2 separate regions of the Homo sapiens genome follow, and region 2 is linked to region 1. Evidence: fine-mapped expression QTL. A gene starts in region 1. The other region holds a variant in brackets. All regions are shown on one strand. Distances are from middle to middle.

Evidence for each region.
Region 2: its variant is fine-mapped to the expression of PRMT1 in whole blood (INTERVAL, PIP 0.92).

What each region holds. Positions count from the first base shown.
Region 1 is chr19:49,671,328-49,681,317 of GRCh38, reverse strand. It overlaps PRMT1 (protein arginine methyltransferase 1), which reads right to left and starts at 4,047. Exons shown (of 11, transcript NM_001536.6): 1 at 4,002-4,047; 2 at 1,393-1,446; 3 at 730-831. The coding sequence starts at 4,037. It overlaps BCL2L12 (BCL2 like 12), which reads right to left. Exons shown (of 7, transcript NM_138639.2): 7 at 7,402-7,620. The coding sequence ends at 7,570. RefSeq lists silencers at 392-556, 403-772, 3,553-3,832 and enhancers at 3,677-4,408, 4,413-4,562, 8,973-9,162, 8,656-9,214.
Region 2 is chr19:49,391,633-49,401,622 of GRCh38, reverse strand. It overlaps KASH5 (KASH domain containing 5), which reads right to left. Exons shown (of 20, transcript NM_144688.5): 3 at 7,043-7,147; 4 at 6,331-6,517; 5 at 5,790-5,854; 6 at 3,906-3,972; 7 at 3,480-3,641; 8 at 2,481-2,598; 9 at 2,116-2,166. Among named protein-coding and RNA genes, the nearest start is that of KASH5, 8.4 kb to the right of the region's middle. The variant C/T (reference allele first, on the strand shown) is at 6,476.

The DNA of each region.
Region 1 (9,990 bases):
CAGCACCTCAGGAGGCCAAAGCCGGAGGATCACTTGATCCCAAGAGTTTGAGACCAGCCTGGGCAACAAGGCAAGATTATCTCTACAGAAAAATAAGAACATCAGCTGGGCGTGGTGGCGCGCGCCTGTGGTCCCAGCTACTCCGAAAGTGGAAGTGGGGGGATCACCTGAGCCGGGGAGGTCGAGGCTGCAGTGAGCCATGATTGCACCAATGCACTCTAGCCTGGGCGACAGAGCGAGACCGTCTCTAAAAATAAAAAATGGCAATTTTATGCATATTTTGCCACAATTTTATGAAAAAGGCCTCAGGGGGAAAAGAAAATTCCTTAGAATGCCACCCCAGCTTCGTTCTGGGATTTCAGTGTCTTCAGTCAGATCTGAAGTGTGCAGAAGCTGTTAGGGCGGGAGCAGCCGGGGCGCAGTCCCACCGCCGGTCACTAGAGGGCGGCAGAGACCAGTGGGCCCTGCCCGACCTCTGGCTAAGGCCCCAGGCACGCATGCGCTCTCCCACCCCAGCCTTCGGCGCGAGGCCCCTGCAGAGATTCAGGCTAACCTCGGTCTCCAAGGCAACGGCTTGGCGAGGCGACCCTAGGAAGTGCGCAGCAGAGGGGCAGGGGGGCGGCCTGCGGCCAGGGGAAGCAGTGCGCATGCGTGGGAAAACAGGTTCCACCCCTTCCCCAACATTTAAGCCCCCCTAAGATTGGGGCCTTGGGGACTGTCCCCACTGACCTCGTGGATGCCAAAGTGTGCGTAGGAGTCAAAGTAGTAATCTTTGGATGTCATGTCCTCAGCGTTGGGCTTCTCACTGCTTTCCGCCTGGCCACAGGACACCTGGGAGGGGGCCGATGGGATCATGGGTCAGATCTGGGGGCTCCCCACAGCCTCTTAAACCTCCAGCGCCCTACTTTTCCCTGAAGAGTAGTATAGAACCCCCAAAATCATACCATGACAACCCTACAGCCCCCGCCTGCCATCTTGCCCCCCCAGGAACCCCAAAACCTAACAACCCCATTTTCCACTTCCAGGACCCCCCCAGAGCACCATCCAGGGGAGCACCCCGATACCTCAGCCACGCCTACCATCTCTCCAGTCTCTCTGACCCCGTCTCTAGCTCAGCCCACAGCTGGGGAGGGGAGGGGAAGGAAAATGGGGGCAGACACAGGGAAGGGCAAAGGGGGGTTGGAGGTGGAGTTAAGGAAGTAGCGGCGATACTGGGGGAGGCCAGCGGGGGCTGTGAACCTGGAGGGGTTGCTACTAAGTGTCTGGGGGCCTGGGGTAAACTGGTTTGAAGCAAGAGGGGTATGGTTAGACCTCAAGAAAGGGCCAGATGTGTGGCAAGATATATTGATGTGGAGGTCAGGGTGGGGAGGGGTCTCACAAAAGGATATTTACTTCTTCAAGAGGCGGCTGGAGGCTCATCCCATTAGCCAAGGTGGCTACAAAATTCTAGGAGAGAGTAACAGGGAAAAAGGATTAGCTACTGGGAGTGGCTGTGGGAGGGCTGGGTGGCGGAACCTGGGCTCTGGCCGGGGGGTGGGTTTCCAGCAATTCTCCTTCTTGGTGGGGAGTGGTGGCGAAGGGGGCAAGTAATGAGGTGGGGTGTTTAAGAAAGGGTGGGAAAAGTGAGGGGAGAAGAAAGGGGGGTCTCCTATCCCAGCTGTGGCTGGAGAGATGGTGGCCCACCCCCACGCTGCCCCTCTCTGGCCAGGCAGCTGACCACACACCTCCCCCATCCAGGCCAGGGGAATTGGCACCCACCACCGCCAGCTGTCGCTCCCTCTCATCACCTAATCTCCTCCAGATTAGGTGACACTTCCTGACACACACACCCCTATCCTAGGGTGCCATGAATAGCAGAAGGGAGCGGGGCTGGCAGGATATGCCCACAGGGCATCTGCCACCTCTGCAAACCAGTCTCATGTCTGAGAGGATTCCAGAATAGAGGTGTGGCACACGGGTACTTCCCCAGAGCTAGTACCCCAGACCCCAGCTCCTGCCTTGGACTCAGGAGCCCCAAACAAAACCAGCTGGAACCAACCCCCTCCCTTATGACCCTCTGCCCACGAAGGTAGGGTCCCAGGGAAGATGGGCAGCTCCTGGACCCTCTAAGAATGAGAGGACTCCAGAAAGTGGCTTGGGGGCACGGTGGCTCACACCTGCAATCCCGGCACTTTGGGAGGCCGAGGCAGGTGGGTCACCTGAGGTCAGGAGTTTGAGACCAGCCTGACCAACATGGTGAAACCCTATCTCTACTAAAAATACAAAAATTAGCTGGGCCTGGTGGCGGGTGCCTGTAATCCCAGCTACTCAGGAGGCTGAAGCAGGAGAATCGCTTGAACCCGGGAGGCGGAGGTTGCAATGAGCCGAGATCAAGCCATTGCACTCCAGCCTGGGTGACAGAGTAAGACTCCGTCTCAAAAAAAAAAAAAAAAAAAGTGGCTTGGGGAGTCAGGCCATCGCCCCCATTCAGACACCCATCCCAGGCCCTGAAGACTTCCAGGTGCGGCCAAGCCTGAGGCCACCTCTGGGAAAGTTATTTCCTCCATCCATAGAGCCCCAGGTGCAGGAGACAGCCAAGAGGGTGGGAAGTCATTACAGTGACCCCTGGGAGCTGCATCCTGACAGCTGAGAGCTGACCTGCCCCTCCAGCCAATGCCATAGGTAAGGGGTGGAAGGACAGAGGCCCCATCAGATTACATCTCTTCCAGATGTGACCACTATCCAAGTCTCCAAGAAGGGCCACGTCACAGGCCATGACCTACTAGGCTCCAAGCACCCTCCCTCCAGCTCTCCCAAGCTAGCGGGGATGCCTATAAGAAGAAAGGTGCTGAGGGGGTTTCCCACTCGGGCCTATTTCTCAATACCACTGAAAACTACCGCCAGACAACCCCAGCCCCAGAGGGCTTGAAACGCAAGACTGAAACCTCCCCCACATGGCTGCACGAGAACCAAACCTCACTCGAAACCATTTCAGGCACCCACTCTCAGGACCCCAGGGCTCAGGACCCTGCACAGGGCTTCAGGAAGAAGGAGGTCATCTCGCACCCTCACAAAGACCCGGGGGAGATAAACGGCTCCAGTAGGGTAAAGCTCTCAGCCTACATATTTCCCACAACTCCTTCCCAGCGGACATACCCTCCTCCCTCCGCCCGCCAGGAAGAAATCCGAGGGGAGGTGGGCTTCAGGACACGCCCCATGAAAAAGATGTCCCTCCCACACACCCAGAAATGGCCACAAGGGGGTGCACGGCGCCTATTAATGGGAAAATCTCTATCTAGATGCCCCACCACCACCCAGAGGGAGGTCACAGGGGCATGCCCCATCCCCCAACTCCTAAAGCCCTGGGCGAGGGGGAGAATTCTGGGAGGGGAAACGGGGTCGGCGGGGGACCCCATTCTTGGTTTTCCTCCAGTCCCTAACCCAGAACGCACAAAACCGGGTCCGATATCCCAACAGATGCCCCCGGAGCTCGGAAGGAGGTTGGTAAAGGGCTGAGAAGCACTGCTCCTCCCAAGAGACTCCCCACATCGTGGAGGGCCCCAGGTCGATCACACCCCACGGCGTGTGCCCAGGTCCCCGGGGAGGAGGGCTGGGGGCGTCAGGAGGGTCGGACCCCCTCCCCGCCCCCCTGGGCGCCCCTCCCCGGCCGGGGGCGGGGCCTTTGTCCCGCACGTGGAGCCCGCCGGGCCACTGGACTCGGCACACCCCCTCCCCACCCACCGCGCAGCGGCCACGTGGGGGCCTGGCCGGAAGCGCCCCCAGCCCTCCTCCACGTGGGAGGGGGGATAAGACCCTCCGCTAGGCCGGATGCCGAAGGCCCTTGGAAGCTAGGGAGCCGTCACCTCAAACGATATCCCCGGATGTGGAACGTGCGGCGCCCCCGTGTGCGGCGGGGGACCTCCAACCCCATATCGCCAACTTAGAGCCCTTTCCCCACCACAGAGGCGTGAAACACCGACCCAAAGCCGCCTCCCGCCCACGGCGGCGCTCCAAGCGCTCACCTCCATGATGCAGTTCGCGGCCTCGGCTGCCGCCATCTTCACCCGCACCTACTCCTCCTCCGGCCGCCAAGACCCCCCCTTTCTCCTCACTCCCCCGGGACCGCCTTATACCAGAGGGTCCACGGCCCGCCTACCGCGACCCCGCTGGAAGATTTCATTGGCAATGGAGGCGGCCCGTCTGAGAATACCGTCTAGTAATTGGCTAGAGAATACGTCCATCATAGGTCAGGGGTTTGCCAACTCTGGCGTCCAGAATCCCGCCCCCTCAAGTCGACCCGGGATGGGGAAAACTGCCCGTCTATTGCAAGAAGCGCGACTGGTGATTGGGCAAAATCCACCAGGAATGCCCTCCCCTTTACACCCAGCACCGCCTCAAAGCTTCCCGGGGAGCCCCGCGCTAAAGGGGCGTCTTGAAACACCTGTCCATCACCAAAACGACCCGCCTCCTAATCGCTGCCATTGGTTTATCCGGAAGCGACGTCACGCAGCCTTTGGCCCACCCTCGCCAAGCGGCCGGCCTCAAGGAGAACACGGCAATTGGCCCACGGGTAGGGAAGAAGGCGGGGCTTCAGGCACCAACGATTGGCTCAAAGGAATTATCACTCCTCGTCCACTCGGTGGATCCTCCCAACCCGGGGGGAGTCTGGAGGAAAAAGGGAGCTTGTGCTCATTACCTGGGGGAAAAACGGAATCGGTGAGAGGCCCAGAGAGAGGAAGGGCATAGCTGGGGTCCCGAAGCAAGTGAGGAATAGGAGTCCGTCGTCAACACATTAAATCCCTAGCCCTTGACATAATCATTCCAAGTTTTTTAAAACCATCAACCCCTCTCAAGCCACTTGGTTTTTGCCAAGTCCCTCCCCCTGCCAGGAACGCCCACCTCTCTTTGTCTGGTCAGCTTCTAAACGTGAATCAGAGCACAGCTTAGGCACCACTTCCTCCGGGAAGCTTTCCTTGATTTGCAGAAAAAGTTCCTAGTTGAATGAAGCTGAATGCAAAGGGCCGAATGCGTGGGTCCTGCCCCTCCTCTCCCCGATCCCTCTACTTCCCTCTGCTCACACTTCTCTCCAATCCCGGAATGAGCTCGCTCTTTGGTTTCTGGGCCTCCGCGCAGGCTATACTCTCTGGCGTGCCGCTGGCAAACGCCTGAGACTTAAAATTTACAATAGGGTTCGGGCGCGATGGCTCACGGGTGTAATTCCAGCACTTTAGGAGGCGGAGGCAGGCGGATCACTTGACATCAGGAGTTCGAGACCAGTCTGGGCAACATGGTGAAACCCCCATTTCTATTAAAAATACAAAAATTACGCCAGGCGGCCGGGCGCGGTGGCTCACGCCTGTAATCCCAGCATTTTGGGAGACCGAGGCGGGCGGATCACAAGGTCAGGAGGTCGAGACCATCCTGGCTAACATGGTGAAACCCCCGTCTCTACTAAAAATACAAAAAATTAGCCGGGCGTGGAGGCTTAGGCAGGAGGATGGCGTGAACCCGGGAGGCGGAGCTTGCAGTGAGCTGAGATCGCGCCACTGCACTCCAGCCTGGGTGACAGAGCGAGACTCTTGTCTCAAAAAAAAAAAAAAAAAAAATTTGGCCGGGCGCGGTGACTCACGCCTGTAATCCCAGCATTTTGGAAGGCTGAGGTGGGCGGATCACAAGCTCAGGAGTTCGAGACCAGCCTAGCCAATATGGTGAAACCCCCGTCTCTACTAAAAAAACAAAAATTAGCCGGGTGTGGTGGTGGGCGCCTGTAGTCCCAGCTGCTCCAGAGGCTGAGGCAGGAGAATCACGTGAACCCGGGAGGCAGAGGTTGCAGTGAGCTGAGATGGTGCCACTGCACTCCAGCCTAGGCGACACAGCGAGACTCCATCTCAAAAAATAATAAAATAAATAAAAATAAAAATAAAAAAATTAGCCAGGACTGGTGGCACACGCCTGTAATCCCAGCTACTTGGGAGGCTGAGGCAGGAGAATCGCTTGAGCTCAGGAGGTGGAGGTTGCAGTGAGCCAGGATGAAGCCATTGCACTCCAGCTCGAGCGACAGACCGAGACTCTAACTTTAAAAAAAAAAAAAAAAATTGAAAAGCATGGCACTAAACAAACCAAGAAAAGGACATTTGTTTCCAGTGTTTGAGCTGAAGCAAGAGGAGCCCAGCTGCAAATATGCACATCAGGTCTTTAGCTTGTTGCAGCTCTGTGCATAAGCATTGCCCTCCAAAACACCACAAAAGCACTGCCTTAATTTTTGGGGTATGAATACATTGTAGCAAGGATGCAAATTTGCAAATAATCTACAAATACTGAGGATCAACTGTAATTGGTTCGGTTTGTAATCCTGTACATTTCACTTATTAATTTACAAACATTACTCTGTGAAGGGGGATATGGCCCTATAAAGGAGACAAACCGCCCAGGCACAGTGACTCATGCCTGTGATCCCAGGACTTTGGGATGCCAAGGTAGGAGGATCACTTGAGCCCAGGAGGTGGAGACCAGCCTGGGCAACATAAGGGAGACCCCATTTCTACAATTTTTTTTTTTTTGAGACGGAGTCTCGCTCTGTTGCCCAGGCTGGAGTGCAGTGGCGTGATCTCAACTCACTGCAACCTCTTGCCTCCCGGGTTCAAGCGAGTCTCGTGCCTCAGCCACCCAAGTAGCTGGGATTACAGGCACCCACCACCATGCCCGGCTAATTTTTGTATTTTTAGTAGAGATGGGGTTTCACCATGTTGGCCTGGCTGGTCTTGAACTCCTGACCTCAAGTGATCCACCTGCCTTGGCCTCCCATAAAAATTCTTTTTTAAAAATTAGCTAGGCGTCGTGTCGCATGCCTTTAGTTCCAGCTACTAGAGAGGCTGAAGTGGGAGGATCACTTGAGCCCAGGAGGTTGAGGCTGCAGTGAGCCATGATAGTGCCACTGTATCTATATAACAGTGCAAGTATAGGCAACAGAGCAAGACCCTATCTCCAAAAAAAAAGGGAGAGTGGGGGGTGTGTGTGAGACAAACCACTGGTCTGTAGGTAGATGAGAAACCAGCAAGAGAGACTTGAAAGGAGCAATGGGAGGAGAAAAACAAGAAGAGGGTGGTGTCCTAGACACAGGTGAAGTTAGACTGTACCTTTCTGTGGAATTCACTGGAAAGACTCCATGACCATCATACAGCATTAGCTAGAATAACCAGATCGTGCAATAGGAAAAAAAAATGCAAGTTGCTGGAATATTTACAGGTATTCTCTCAAATATGTTACATGTCCAGGAGACAGGCTCTTGTAGGTGCTGCAAATAAATATTTCTAGAATGAATGAACTGGTTCTTTCCTCAATTTGCGTAAGCCACAGAAATCTCTGAACCAAATCTCCTCTCCTTAAAACTTTAGTTCCCAAGTGTAAGAACAGACAATTGAATACTTTGTAACGTTTTTAATAAGAAAAGTTTTAAACAATTTATTTTTGGCAAAAACAGGTAGGGCAACCACCACCCCACAGCCCTGAGTGGAATAGGAAGACTTGGAAAAGCACACGAAGAGGGCAGGGACATGAGGTGTCATCTTGTAGCAGCTTCTGAGAAAGAGCTCAGTCCAATGGCAAGTTCAAGTCCACGGGTGAAACAGCCAGGATGCCCTCCTGGAAGGGAAAAGTGGCAGAGCCCTGTGAGCAGGGCAGGTGTTCCCCCCATACAGCAGCGTCCACATCAGCCCTGTGAGATTAGAGACGGGAAGGCGAGGAACCAGAGAGCGGAGGGTGACAGACACCCAGACAAGGGGACAGAGACCCAGACAGAAGGGCACAGGGATGAGGGGGCAGGGTCCTAGCAGGAGGAGGAAAGGTTGAGCTCGAGGAGGGTCAGGACACTGGAGTGGGATTAGACAGAGATCCAGAGAGAGTGAAGAGTTGGGGGACAGAGTCAGAGATGGGGAAGAGAGTCTTGGGATTTGAACAATTCAGAGTCGTGGCTTTGTGTACAAATCCAGATTCCAACACTCTGCATGCTGGGGACTTTTCCTCTCTGCCCCCACAAGACGAGGACAATAAGAGCCCCATGAGGTTGTAGTGGGTTTAAATGGGATCATTCCATTGAAATCCCTAGCAGAGGACCTGGCCCACCGAGAAAACTCATCTGCTATCAATCCTACTTTAAAAAAATTTTTTAAGAAATTGTCCAGGCGTGGTAGCTCAGCCTGTAATTCCAGCACTTTGGGAGGCCGAGGTGGGTGGATCACTTGAGGCCAAGAGTTCGAGACCAGCCTGGCCAACAGGGCAAAACCCCGTCTCTGCTAAAACTACAAAATTAGCCGGACATGGTGGTGTGCGCCTGTAACCCCAGCTACTCAGGAGGCTGAGGCAGGGAATCGCTTGAACCCAGGAGGTGGAGGTTGCAGTGAGCCAAGGTCGTGCCACTGCACTCCAGTCTGGGCAATAGAGTGAGACTCCATCTGAAAAATTAAAATAAAATAAAATAAACGAGCTTCTTTGCTGAGCCCAACACTTATATCCATTCCCCTCAACATGTGCTATGAGTTCTGATCTTACTGTAGACCGGACCACCTCCAGTCCTGCTCCCCACCCCCATCGCCCCCATCCCCACACCTTCCCCATCTCGGGGAACTTAAGATGTCGCCCTGCAGCTGCTCGGGCCAGCATCCTTTAGTCTGTCCCCACATCTGGCCCATTAGCCAAATCTGTCAGCTTCACCGCTAAGTTAAATCCAGCATTCTCCACCGCCCCCGACTTGGGTGAGATCCACTCACCTCCTCCCTGTGCCCCTACTTCTGCCCTCGCCCCCAGCAGTCTGTCCCCAGGCAGCCGCCAGAGGGCGCCCATTAGCGCCTAAATCAGCGCCTGTCCCTCCGCTGCTCAGAGACCTTGGCTTACCCAGAGTCAAAGTCCGAGTTGTCACTCACCGTGACCACAGGGTCCTGGCTGGCCCGGCGCCTCTCCTCCTCTCATCTGTCGCCCGCTCACCCTACTGTAGCCCTACTGGCCTCCTCCTCCCTGCTCCTCAAACACACTTGACCAGCTCCTGCCAGGGAAACCGGTTCCATCCAGAGCCTGGCTTGTGTCCCTCTCTCAGTGAATACCCACAGCGACCCCCCAAGGCAGGTAAATGAGACGGTGCTCACTGGACCAGTGGGGAGAGTGCCGCTCAGGGAGACTGCGACAGTCGCCAAGCCACAGGGCCAGCACGCTGGAGCCCAATCCAACTCTGAAACCGGCACTGGAGATAAAGTAAGAAAAGGAGAGGGGAAGACTTCTGGGTCTCCTGAAGCTGATGTGTTAGAGGTGGGAGACACCAACAAAGAAAAATAAACCAGAAGACAAGTAAAACAAGTCAATTCCACCATCTGTTGGAAGGCCCAAAGTGCTATGGAAGGAAAAGTAAAGCAGGAAGGGGGAAGGAGGGCGGTGGGAGGGTGTGCAGGTGGCTGTGATTGTCAATGGGGACCTGGGAAGGCCTCGTTGGGGGTGAAACCAGAGCCCACCAGAAGGAGCAGGACGGAGGCAGGGGGTTCCCCGGGAGGGCATCCTGGCAGGCACTGTTGGAAAGGCAGCAGGTAGCCATATAACCTCACCAACAAAATGCCTGCATGCCAGGCAGTGCACAGAGGGCTTACCACATTGACCCCATTTTAACCCTCAGAGCGACCCTTTGAGGTAGCACTACTACTCTCACTATTTTATTTTTTGAGACAGGGTCCCACTCTGTCACCCACACTGGAGTACAGTGGCGCAATCATAGCTCACCACAGCCTTGAACTCCTGGGCTCAAGTGATCCTCCCGGCTCCTCTGCCTCCTGAGTAGCTGGGAGTAAACGTGTGAGCTACCATGCTTTGCTAATTATTATTAATTTTAAAAATTTTTATTTATTTATTTTTTGAGACAGAGCCCCGCTCTTGTTGCCCAGGCTGGAGTGCAGTGGTGCAATCTCGGCTCACTACAACCTCTGCCTCCCAGGTTCAAGCAATTCTCTTGCCTCAGCCTCCCTAGCTGGGATT
Region 2 (9,990 bases), 280 kb after region 1:
GGGTATGGATGGAGAACCGCAGAGCCCTGGAAGTCTTGTGATCTGAGAGGCCTTGCGTGTACTTCCCAGAGCACTCTCAGAATCATCACGGTGTGAGAATAATAGAGATGCTACTTTCTTGTGAAAGCAAAGAGGCCTCACTGGTGGGTCCTCTCCAGACCTCTGCCCACCCCAGCCCTGTGTCCTCCAGTCTGTCAAGGCCTGGGTGGGGTTTGGGATCCTTCAGGGAAATGAGTGACGGACAGGGACTTTGCTAACAGCTCAGGGAGAACAGAGGAATCTCTCTCCTGTTTCTCTTTCCCCAGAGAAGCCACATCTCCCCACCATGAGCACCCACCCTGGCCTGGGGAAATGAGGCAGGGGCTTTGGGCAGTGACCCCAGCCTCTTCCCTTTCACAGGAAAGTAGCCAAATCACCTCCCTGGCTCTGGAAGGGTGTGGAAGTGGTGGAGTAAGAGTCCCAGCCCAGATAAGGGATCACCACCAGAAGATGAAGAAGATGGTATGTCCAGAGATCCAAAGGCAATGCGGGCCTCACAGTAGATGCCAGCACACAGTGGTGACAAACGCTTGGACAAAACCCATCAATCTCATGAACAGCAGAGAGGAGAAACATTGAGTGAGGATCAGCAGCCTCCTAGAGCACTAGGCTCCTGCATCAGTCTCCTGCAACTTAGATACCACCTTGAGGTCGGGGGTGGTGACAGGTTTCATTGTCAATTGATGAGTTTGTTTCAATCTAAAAAAAATTAGGTGGGCCCAGAATGAACTAAGATGATGTTTTTCTGTCTTGGATGGAACGGGGCTTGAATTAAATGTGAAGCTGAACTCAGTCTCTTCATATTGTTTGCTAGTCCCTCAGTGAAATGCTGTCAATCCTCAAAACAAGCCTACTGAACAGATACCCTTCTTCCAGTTCTTTGAAAATAAAAGTAGGTCAGGTGTGGTGGCTCATGTCTGTAATCCCAGCATTTTGGGAGGCTGAGGTGGGCAGATCACCTGAGGTCGGGAGTTTGAGACCAGCCTGACCAACATGGAAAAACCCCGTCTCTACTAAAACAAACAAACCAACCAACCAACAAAAAAACAAAATTAGCCAGGTGTGGTGGCACATGCCTGTAATCCCAGCTACTTGGGAGGCTGAGGCAGAAGAATCACTTGAACCGGGAGACGGTGGTTGCCATGAGGTAAGATCGCGCCATTCCACTCCAGCCTGGGCAACAAGAATGAAACTCTGTCTCAAAAAAAAAAAAAAGAAAAAAAAAAAAAAGAAACTAAAAGTAAAGGCTTGAGAAGGAGAAGTCACATGCTTAAAGGTTGCCTATTGTGTAAGTGGCGGAGATGGGATTTGAACTCAAGGTTGACTTCAAATCCAATTTTTTTTTTTTTTTTTTTTTTGAGAGGCTCTCGCTCTGTCATCCAGGCTGGAATGCCATGATGCAATCTTGGCTCACTGCAACCTCTGTCTCCCGGGCTCGTGCAGTCTTTCCACCTCAGCCTCCTGAGTGGCTGGACTACAGGTGCACACTACCATGCCTGGCTTATTTTTCTATTTTTTGTAGAGGCAAGGTTTTGCCATGTTGCCCGGGATGGTCTCGAACTCCTAGGCTAAAGGGGTCCACCCAGCTAGGCCTCCCGAAGTGCTGGGATTCCAGGCATGAGCCACTGTGCCTGGCTGTTTTATTCACTGTAAAAAATACTAATATAGAAACAATGCTAGATAACTTTTAGTGAGCACATCCTATGTGTCCTACCTTGTGCCCAAGACTTTGCAAGTATCCTTCGGTTGAAGTCTCACACAAACCACTGAGGCAGATGCCATTGTTTTGTTCATCTTTATAGGTGAGGCAACTGAGGCACAGAGAAGGGAGGCACTGGTCCACTCTTATGTAGGTGGCCTCAGCCTGAAGCCATGTAGGCTGACCCCATGCCTCACACTCTTGTAAACCACGGCTGTTCTCACAGTGTGATATAACCTCAGGGACATTCCCACACTACTGACATTCTGAGGTCTCCCCAAGACAGGCTGCTGGGGTGTTGGGGGCAGAAGGGAGTGGTGTCAAGAAGACCTTAAGGACTGGGGAAGGGGTGGGGGTGGTGCTGGGCCTCCGCTCACCTCCTCCTGCAGAGTCTCCATCTCAGCCACCAGATGCTGCTGCTCCTTTTCCTGACCAACCCCAGAGAGAGGACAAAGGTTTCATTTCTAGCCTCCTTGCCCCCATGTTGCCCTTCTCCCACCCCTGAAAACACAACCAGGGCCTGGGGGAATGGGTCTGGGAAGCCCTGATGGCTCCTGCTGTCTCCTTTGTCATGAGAAGGATGGCAGGTAAGCTTGAAAAAGTCTAGGGTGAGCAGGGCCTGGAGAGAGGGAGAAAGCCAGGTGACCTCTGCCCCTTCCTACTCCATAGTCACACTCTGCCGCCCTGACTCCAGGAAACAAAGAAGAGAGAGGGCACCTTCCTTCCCCTGGGCCAGACCCACCGCCTGCCGGGCTTGGGCCAGAAGGCTGCGATTCTGTTCCTCCAGGCTCCTGGCCAGAGTCTTCAGGTCCTCCAGCTCCTCATCCATGGCCTTGGCAAACTGCAGGGCCTGCTGGGTGCTGAATGCGGGTGGGGGCAGATGAGCCATACGAGAGGGAGGAAGGCAGAGAAGCACAGAGACAGATCCATTCTGAGAGACACTAGCAACAGAGAGATCCCAGGTGGTAGGCAGGGACAGAGACCCAGAGAGAGGGGAGGACAGAGACCCAGAGAGAAAAGAGGAGAAGGAGACCTGGTGTGGGCACAGAGACCCAGTTTTAACCTAAAAGACTGAGGAAGTGGGAAAGAGACCTAGAGAGAGTGGGGGACTAGAACAGGGAGACCACGATAAACATGAAGAATGACAAAGCACAGAGAGATGAAAGGGCGAGTGACATGAAGAATCAGAGAGTTAAAGAATAAAGAGAGAAATCTAGGCTGGGTGCAGTGGCTCAGGCCTGTACTCCCAGCACTTTGGGAGGATAAGGCGGGAGGATGGCTTGAGCCCAGGAGTTTGAGACCAGCATGGGCAACACAGTGAGAACTCATTTCTATAAAAAATAAAACAAAATTAGCCAAGCAGGGTGGTGGGCCTGTGGTCCCAGCTACTTGGGAAGCTGAGGTGGGAGGCTCGCTAGAGCCCAGAGGCGGAGGGTACAGTGAGCTGTGATCACCCCCACTGCACTCCAGCCTGGGTGACAGAGTGAGAACCTGTCTCAAAAAAAAAAAAAAGAGAGAGAGAGAAGTCTGAACCCTCAAGGGAAAGATAAAAAGACCAAAACAGAGGCTGAGAGATAAGAATCAGAGAGACACAAAAGATAAAAACAGAAAAGGGAAAAGAAAGGACAGGTACAGAGTCAAAGAGCAGGATGCAGACACGAGCATGGGAGATAGAGGCCGGCTGCTGCAGGGAGGACGGAGGCAGGGGCGCTGGGGAGGGTGGGTGTGGCATCCAGCCCACCTGTGAAGCTGCTTACGCAGAGCCAAGATCTCCTCCCCAAGGCGTGCTGACCCCTCCTCAGCTGTCTCCATGCTCCGCTGCAATTTGGCATTCTCCCCAACCAGACGTCGGTTGCTGAGCTCCAGGTCCTCCAGGCTGCTCAGCAGGTCAGCTGTGGCTTGTCTAGGGGCAAGGAAGGGGTTCAGGTCACTGTCCACAGCCCCTGACTCATTTCCCCGGGTCGAGGTAGGTGCTGGTGGTGGGGAGATGTGGCTCTTTTGGGGAAAGATAAACAGGAGAGAGACTCCTCTGCTCTCCCTGAACTTTCAGCAAAGCCCCGTCCCTCATTCATTTCCCTGAAGGATCCCAAGCCCTACCCGGGCCTCGGCAGGCTGGAGGGGACAGGGTGTGGGCAGGAGGGTCAGGGAGGGGTGTGAGGATAGGTACAGCTCGGGTCTGGGGTCTTCGCCTCCGAAGCTCTCCAGGTTGGCTGGCTCCTCAGCTTCTGGGCATCCTGGAGGGAGAGAGCCAAGAGAATGTTGGCTTCCCTGGAACCCTTAAACGTAAAGTGCCCCAGGGCTCTGAGGTTGGACTCCATCTGCCTCCACCCTCACCTGTGCTCTGGAGAATCTCATGGGCTTTTGGGGCTGCAGTTATACCCACTGTAAAGCCCTCTTGCTTGTCTTCTACCTTGAGCTCAGGCTGGATCTCCCAGATAACCCTAACTCCCCACATTCTTTACACCCAACACTGGGCAGCACTTCACCTTCCCCTTCCCAGATCCCCCACCGACCACTCAGCCACTGGGCGGACCTGGCTCCCTTGCTCCCTGTCACCCCCAGTCCAGCAGAGCCCAGACTTCTCCCTCCTGCCCCTGACTCTCTGCTCCACCCCTCCTCTCTGTCTCCATGCCCCGGCCCTTGCTTTCTCCTCTTGGATCCTCACCAGAGCCTCTTCTCTGGCCTTCTGGCCTCTAGTCCCTCCTCTGCTTGCAGCCCTCCCTGGGCCCCCAAGCCTGATGAAGGAGGTTGAAGAGAACTTCCTTCCCCACCGTTTTTTGTATGGCTAGAGAAATGGAACATGACCACCATTTTTTTTTTTTTTTTTTAAAAGACAGGATCCTGCTCTATTGCCCAGGCTGGAGTGCAGTGGTGCAATGCATGGCTCACTGCAGCTTTGACCTTTCAGGCTCAAGCGATCCTCCTGACTCAGTGTCCCGGCTAGGACCACAGGTACATGCCACCGCACTCAGCTAATTTTTTATTTTTAGTAGAGATGGTGTCTCACTATGTTGCCCAGGCTGGTCTCAAACTACTGGGCTCAAATGTTCTTTCCACTTTGGCCTTCTAAAATGCTGGGATTACAGGCTCACGCCTGTAATCATGACCACTTTTTTTATGGAGCACCTCCTATGTGTGAGGTCCTGGGGATACAATGGTGAGCAAACCAGCCAACTAAACCCAGGTGCCAGTGGCTAACTAGATAATCAGATTTCCTCTGCAGGTGGATGTTCCAATGGAAAGGCCTACAAGTCTAGGAGTGAGCATGGGGAGCAAGGAACTCTAGCCAGGGGCATACCAGGGCTTCCCCTTTGCCAGAGGAGTGGATGACGGCTTGGCGCAGTGGCTCACGCCTGTAATCCCAGCACTTTGGGAGGCCAAGGCAGTTGGATCACCTGAGGTCGGGAGTTCGAGACCAGCCTGACCAACATGGAGAAACCTCGTCTCTATGAAAAATACAAAATTAGCTGGGCGTGGTGGTGCATGCCTGTAATCCCAGCTATGCGGAAGGCTGAGGCAGAAGAACTGCTTGAACCCAGGAGGCGGGGGTGGCGGTGAGCTGAGATTGCGCCATTGCACAACAGCCTGGGCAACAGGAGTGAAACTCTTATCTCAAAAAAAAAAAAAAAAAAAAAAAAAAAGTCCAGCAGGGTGGGGAGCAAGGAGTGGAGGGGAACAGCCTGAGCAAGGACCTGTGCTGGGCAGAAGTGGGGCACATTCGAGGAAGGGCAGCAAGACCAGTGGGCCTGTGAATTCCTGGACTAGAGTGAGGAGAGGTGATGTTAATGATGGAGCAGAGGTAGGCGGGGCCTCGTAGGCCTCTCTAATAGGGCTGGTGTGAGGAGAACGAGTTGGAAACCACCCTCTGAAGAAAAGAAACCCAAAGCTCACGGAAGGAAGGGACGGAGGACCTAGAAAGCCACACTCACAGCTCTAGTCTACAGTAAAGGTCCCTGGTTCCTACCCTATCCCTTGCTCTGCCCTGGGTGGTAAGTCCCCACACTGTCTGACCCAGGGCCTGCCTGCTTCATTCTATATATAGCAATCTCACCAGATGGCAGTTGCCGGGAGGTCAGGGCTCCCTGGAAGGCGGTCTCCTCTTCCAGCTCTAATCCCCTGTATCAAAGGGATGAGGCTTAGCGCCCCACTGTAGCTGCCCCTCAGTCCTCACCAGCCACAGGCAGGGGGATTGCAGGTGGGAGGAGGGGACCGGGTCAGGTGAGAGCTGGCACCACAGGGTAGGAGGGTGAGGCCAGATGGCAAGTGCCCGTGGCCAGATGGAAAAGCAGGAGGGGCAAGGAGTGGGTTTGGTGAAGGGTTGGGGAGGGACCTCTGTCAGCCCCAAACTCCTCCCTTCTCCAGCCCCATTTTATTTCTGTCTCCCAGACCCCCTCTGCTTCCTCATCCAAATTATTTTGTCCTCAGACTCCCTATCTACCCCCTCTGAATCCCGTCTCTTCATTTTTCTCTCCACAGCCTCATTCCAAACACAGTAGGTCCTTGGGCCTAAAGGATGCTGGCTCCAGTAAGCAGGTATGAGGTTAGATCTTAGGAAGGACTTCCCAGAGGAGGATGAAGATGTGGGGACTCACCCATGTAGTTGACAGGCAGCAATCCAGTCACGCATGACAACCAGGAAAGTGTCCAAGTCCACAGTGGCCTTAGGGCCCTCCCCATTGGGGTCCAGGCTGTTGGCCAATGTTTGGAGGCGTGCATCCTGGGGGCCCTGGCCTGTCA[C/T]AGCCTCCAGGTAGGCCAGCACCTGGGCCACAGCCACAGTGCCTGTGACAGAGCATGCAGTGAGGGGGTCTGGGGCAGGTGGGGAGTGATGGGTATGGACTGGCAGCAGCTTGGGACCAGGATGTCACTGGCTAGGCTGGTGGCACTCCTGCTCCATGGCCCAGTGGAGACACACTGGGCAAGCCCTTTCCCCTCCTCTGAGTCCACTTTTTCACCTGGAAATGGGGCCCAGTCATCCCCCCATCACAGGGTAAACCAAAGGGGATGGACATAGGGACAGCATCAGCCATGCCCCACGCCACCATGGTGGCTGCCTCCCTCCCCTATCCCACGACCCCAAAACTCTGCCCTCTTCCATCAACGTCCCCCAAGTTTTCCTCATTCTAAAAGGCCTTCACCCCATTATCCACGTTCTTCTTCCTGAAGCTTCCCATAATCACCCACTTTGTTCTTACAATACCCCCAAGAGGGGGCCTTAGCCCAGTCTTCTCTCTGAGGCTCCCCAGTTCCCAGCCTCCACCCCATCCTGCCCGCACTGGTCCCCAGCACCCCTCATGCCCCCACCACCTGTCCTCTGAGGGTCACAAGCTTCGAACGTGGAGTTGAGTATTTGCTCCTCCAAGCTGACCGGCATTCCCAGCCTTGCCTCCTCAGGCCGCTCCCGGAGGTACACTGGGGAGACAAGAGGGCTCAGCTCACCAGTGGGAAGAATAAGGAAGGAAGAGGGGTGACCCCAGGTCCTCAGCCTCCTGGGCTCTGTAGCGGGGAGGGAATTCACTCAGAGCACTGAGAGTTCGGGCGGGTGGGGAACAGCAGGAAGCTTCAGGAGGGGGCAACAATGTGAGGGTCTCTGAGTTACTTCCCCCCATCTTTCAAACCAGGAAGTCCCCCCTGCTGTCTTTTTGTGTCCAATTGGCTTAGGAGCCCAGAGAAGAACGCTCTGAGATCACCCTTTCCTCCTCTCCTCTCCAGCCTCCCAGGCTGGACTCAGAGAGGGACAGGGTCGGGGAGGGCAAAGAAGAGAGGATTCTGGGAGGAGCTGAGAGTGAAGGGGGGGCCCAGGAGCCAGGAACAATCCAATAATGCATGGGCAGCCCAGATCGATCCCGCCTGCTGCATCTCCGGTCTCCCAGCCCACCCTGGGGACCAGGTCTCTCTCCTCCCTGCATCCCTAAGGCAAGGGTGGCATCATTGGAGCCCATGGCCAGGGGCTGAGACATGAAGGGATAGGGTAAACCAGACAGGGTGGGCAGTGAGGGAATGGTTATGAGCTGGATCAGTGTGTCAGACCTGGGTGCAGAGTCCAGCTGCACATCTGTGGGCAAGTCTCTTCTGTTAGAGCCTCGGTTTCCCTACTGGGGGGGTGGGTAGAGTGATCCTCCTCACCAGGGCTGAGTTAGCTCTGTGTATGTGAAGCACACGCATGTACACACACACACACACACACACACACACACACACACACGTCCTGGGGTCTATTTGTCTACTGTTGTAGCCACAACACCTGCAGATGGCAGGTGCTCAACAAATGCTCCATGACATAGGAAGAGATCCTCAACTGCAGGAGCCACTGGGCTGGCCCAGCCTCTCTCCCAGGGCTGGAAGTGAACTTCTAGGCTCCCTGCCCTGGCCTTGAACAGCTGGGTGCAGCAGCTCACTGAGCACAGGCTGCAGGACGGGGTAGATCCAGGGGGCAACCGAGGCTTGGCCTCAGACAAGTGGTGGCACCTGGGGCAATGGACTCAACTTCTCTTGGGCCTCAGTTTCTTCCTCTGGAAAATGGGGTTGGTGTTACCTCTTTCCTAGAGAGAAAATGAGATACAATCTAGAAAGGCTTTGGCAGAAGGCCTGGCACGTGGTGGGGACTCAAGAATAGAATTGAACACTTATTGAGCATTTAGTAGGTGCCAGGCCTTTTCTGAGCACTTTACATGAACTGTCTACTAGCATAATAATAATCGATGCTATTATAATCCCTACTTTACAAATGAGGGGACTAAGGCATAGAGAAACTAAGAACTCGCCAAAGGTCACCCTGTTTAACATATGAGTCAACTTTCTCATCCCTCTAACTCTTCCAGGATTCTCTGCAGTGAGTGAAATTTGCACCCCCTCTGTCTTGAACCTATGCTCCTAGGTTTGGCCCTTGGGAAGGGGCGTGTGGACTCACAGTTAGGGGGAGACCAGGGCTTTAGCCCCAGTCTGTTTTCCTCCTCTCACTGTTTTTTTTTTTTTTGAGATGGAGTCTCGCTGTGTCACCCAGGCTGGAGTGCAGTAGCGTGATCTCCGCTCACTGCAACTTCTGCCTCCAAGGTTCAAGCAATTCTCCTGCGTCAGCCTCCCGAGTAGCTGGGATTACAGGTGCCTGCTACCAGGCCCAGCTAATTTTTGTATTTTTAGTAGAGATGGGGTTTCACCCTGTTGGCAAGGCTGGTCTCGAACTCCTGACCTCAAGTGATCCGCCCACCTTGGCCTCGCAAAGTGCTGGGATTACAGGTGTGAGCCACCATACCCAGCCCTCTCAGTGTCTTTCTCATGTTACATGAACGAGGACCCTGAGGCCCAATGAGATGGTTCACCCAGGGCTGCTTGCCAGAGAGAGCTAAGCTGGGAATAGAACTCAGGACTGGCATCAGGTCGTGCTGGCTCTGAGGATCAGCATGTGTCTGAAGTCGCATCCCAGGATTCCCCCAGGGAGATGTCATTTCTGTTCCTCAGGAAGATCTCCTTCCTCAGTGTCTCTATCTCCTCTATGTCTCTGTCCTTGCCTCTTCGTTACATTTCTCTTTGGCTCTTTCTCTCTATCTTTCTCCCAGTCTCTCTTCCCCACGTCCTGTCTCTCTGCCTCCATGTCGCTTGTCCCCGTTTTCTTCCCTGTATCTCAGTCTCTGTGCTTCCCTTCCCATATCTCAGAGACTCTCCATTCCCTAAGTCTTCTCTTTCCTTCCTCTGCTGTTTCTTTTTCCCTTTGCCTTCCTCTGTCTCCATCTCTCCTTCTGGGTGTGTTCCTACCTTTCCTTCCAGAGCCTCTCGAAGCTGTCTCAGCCCTTGCCACCCGGATCCTGGTGGCTGCACGCCCTCTGCTGGTGCAGGTGAAGTTTAGATGGCTGTCACTAGACAGCCTGTCCTCTGGTTCCCACACCCTGGTGTCTACCTCTGACCCTCCTATCTGGAAAGCCTCCTGAGGTCTGGGGCTTTGTAGAAAAAGACGCAGGCTGTGCCGTGGATGCCTGGGAGCCTCTAAGAAAGGGGCCCTACCATCCCCATCAGACTGGGCTCTCTCACTTGGCAGATGAGTTTCAGAGAGGCAACCCCAGTGCCTCCTCCCCACCCTCTGAAGCCAGCTTTCACACCCGTTCAACCTACATCCGTCCGTTCACTCAACAGTAAGTGAGCTCCCACAGTGAGTCAGGAGTTGCTCTGGGGTCCCAGCCAACAGGGCAGTCTCTCCTTCTGGAGCACCTGAACTGAGGCGAGTGTAGACTGAAATGCTCTGTTAGTGTAAAGTACACGCT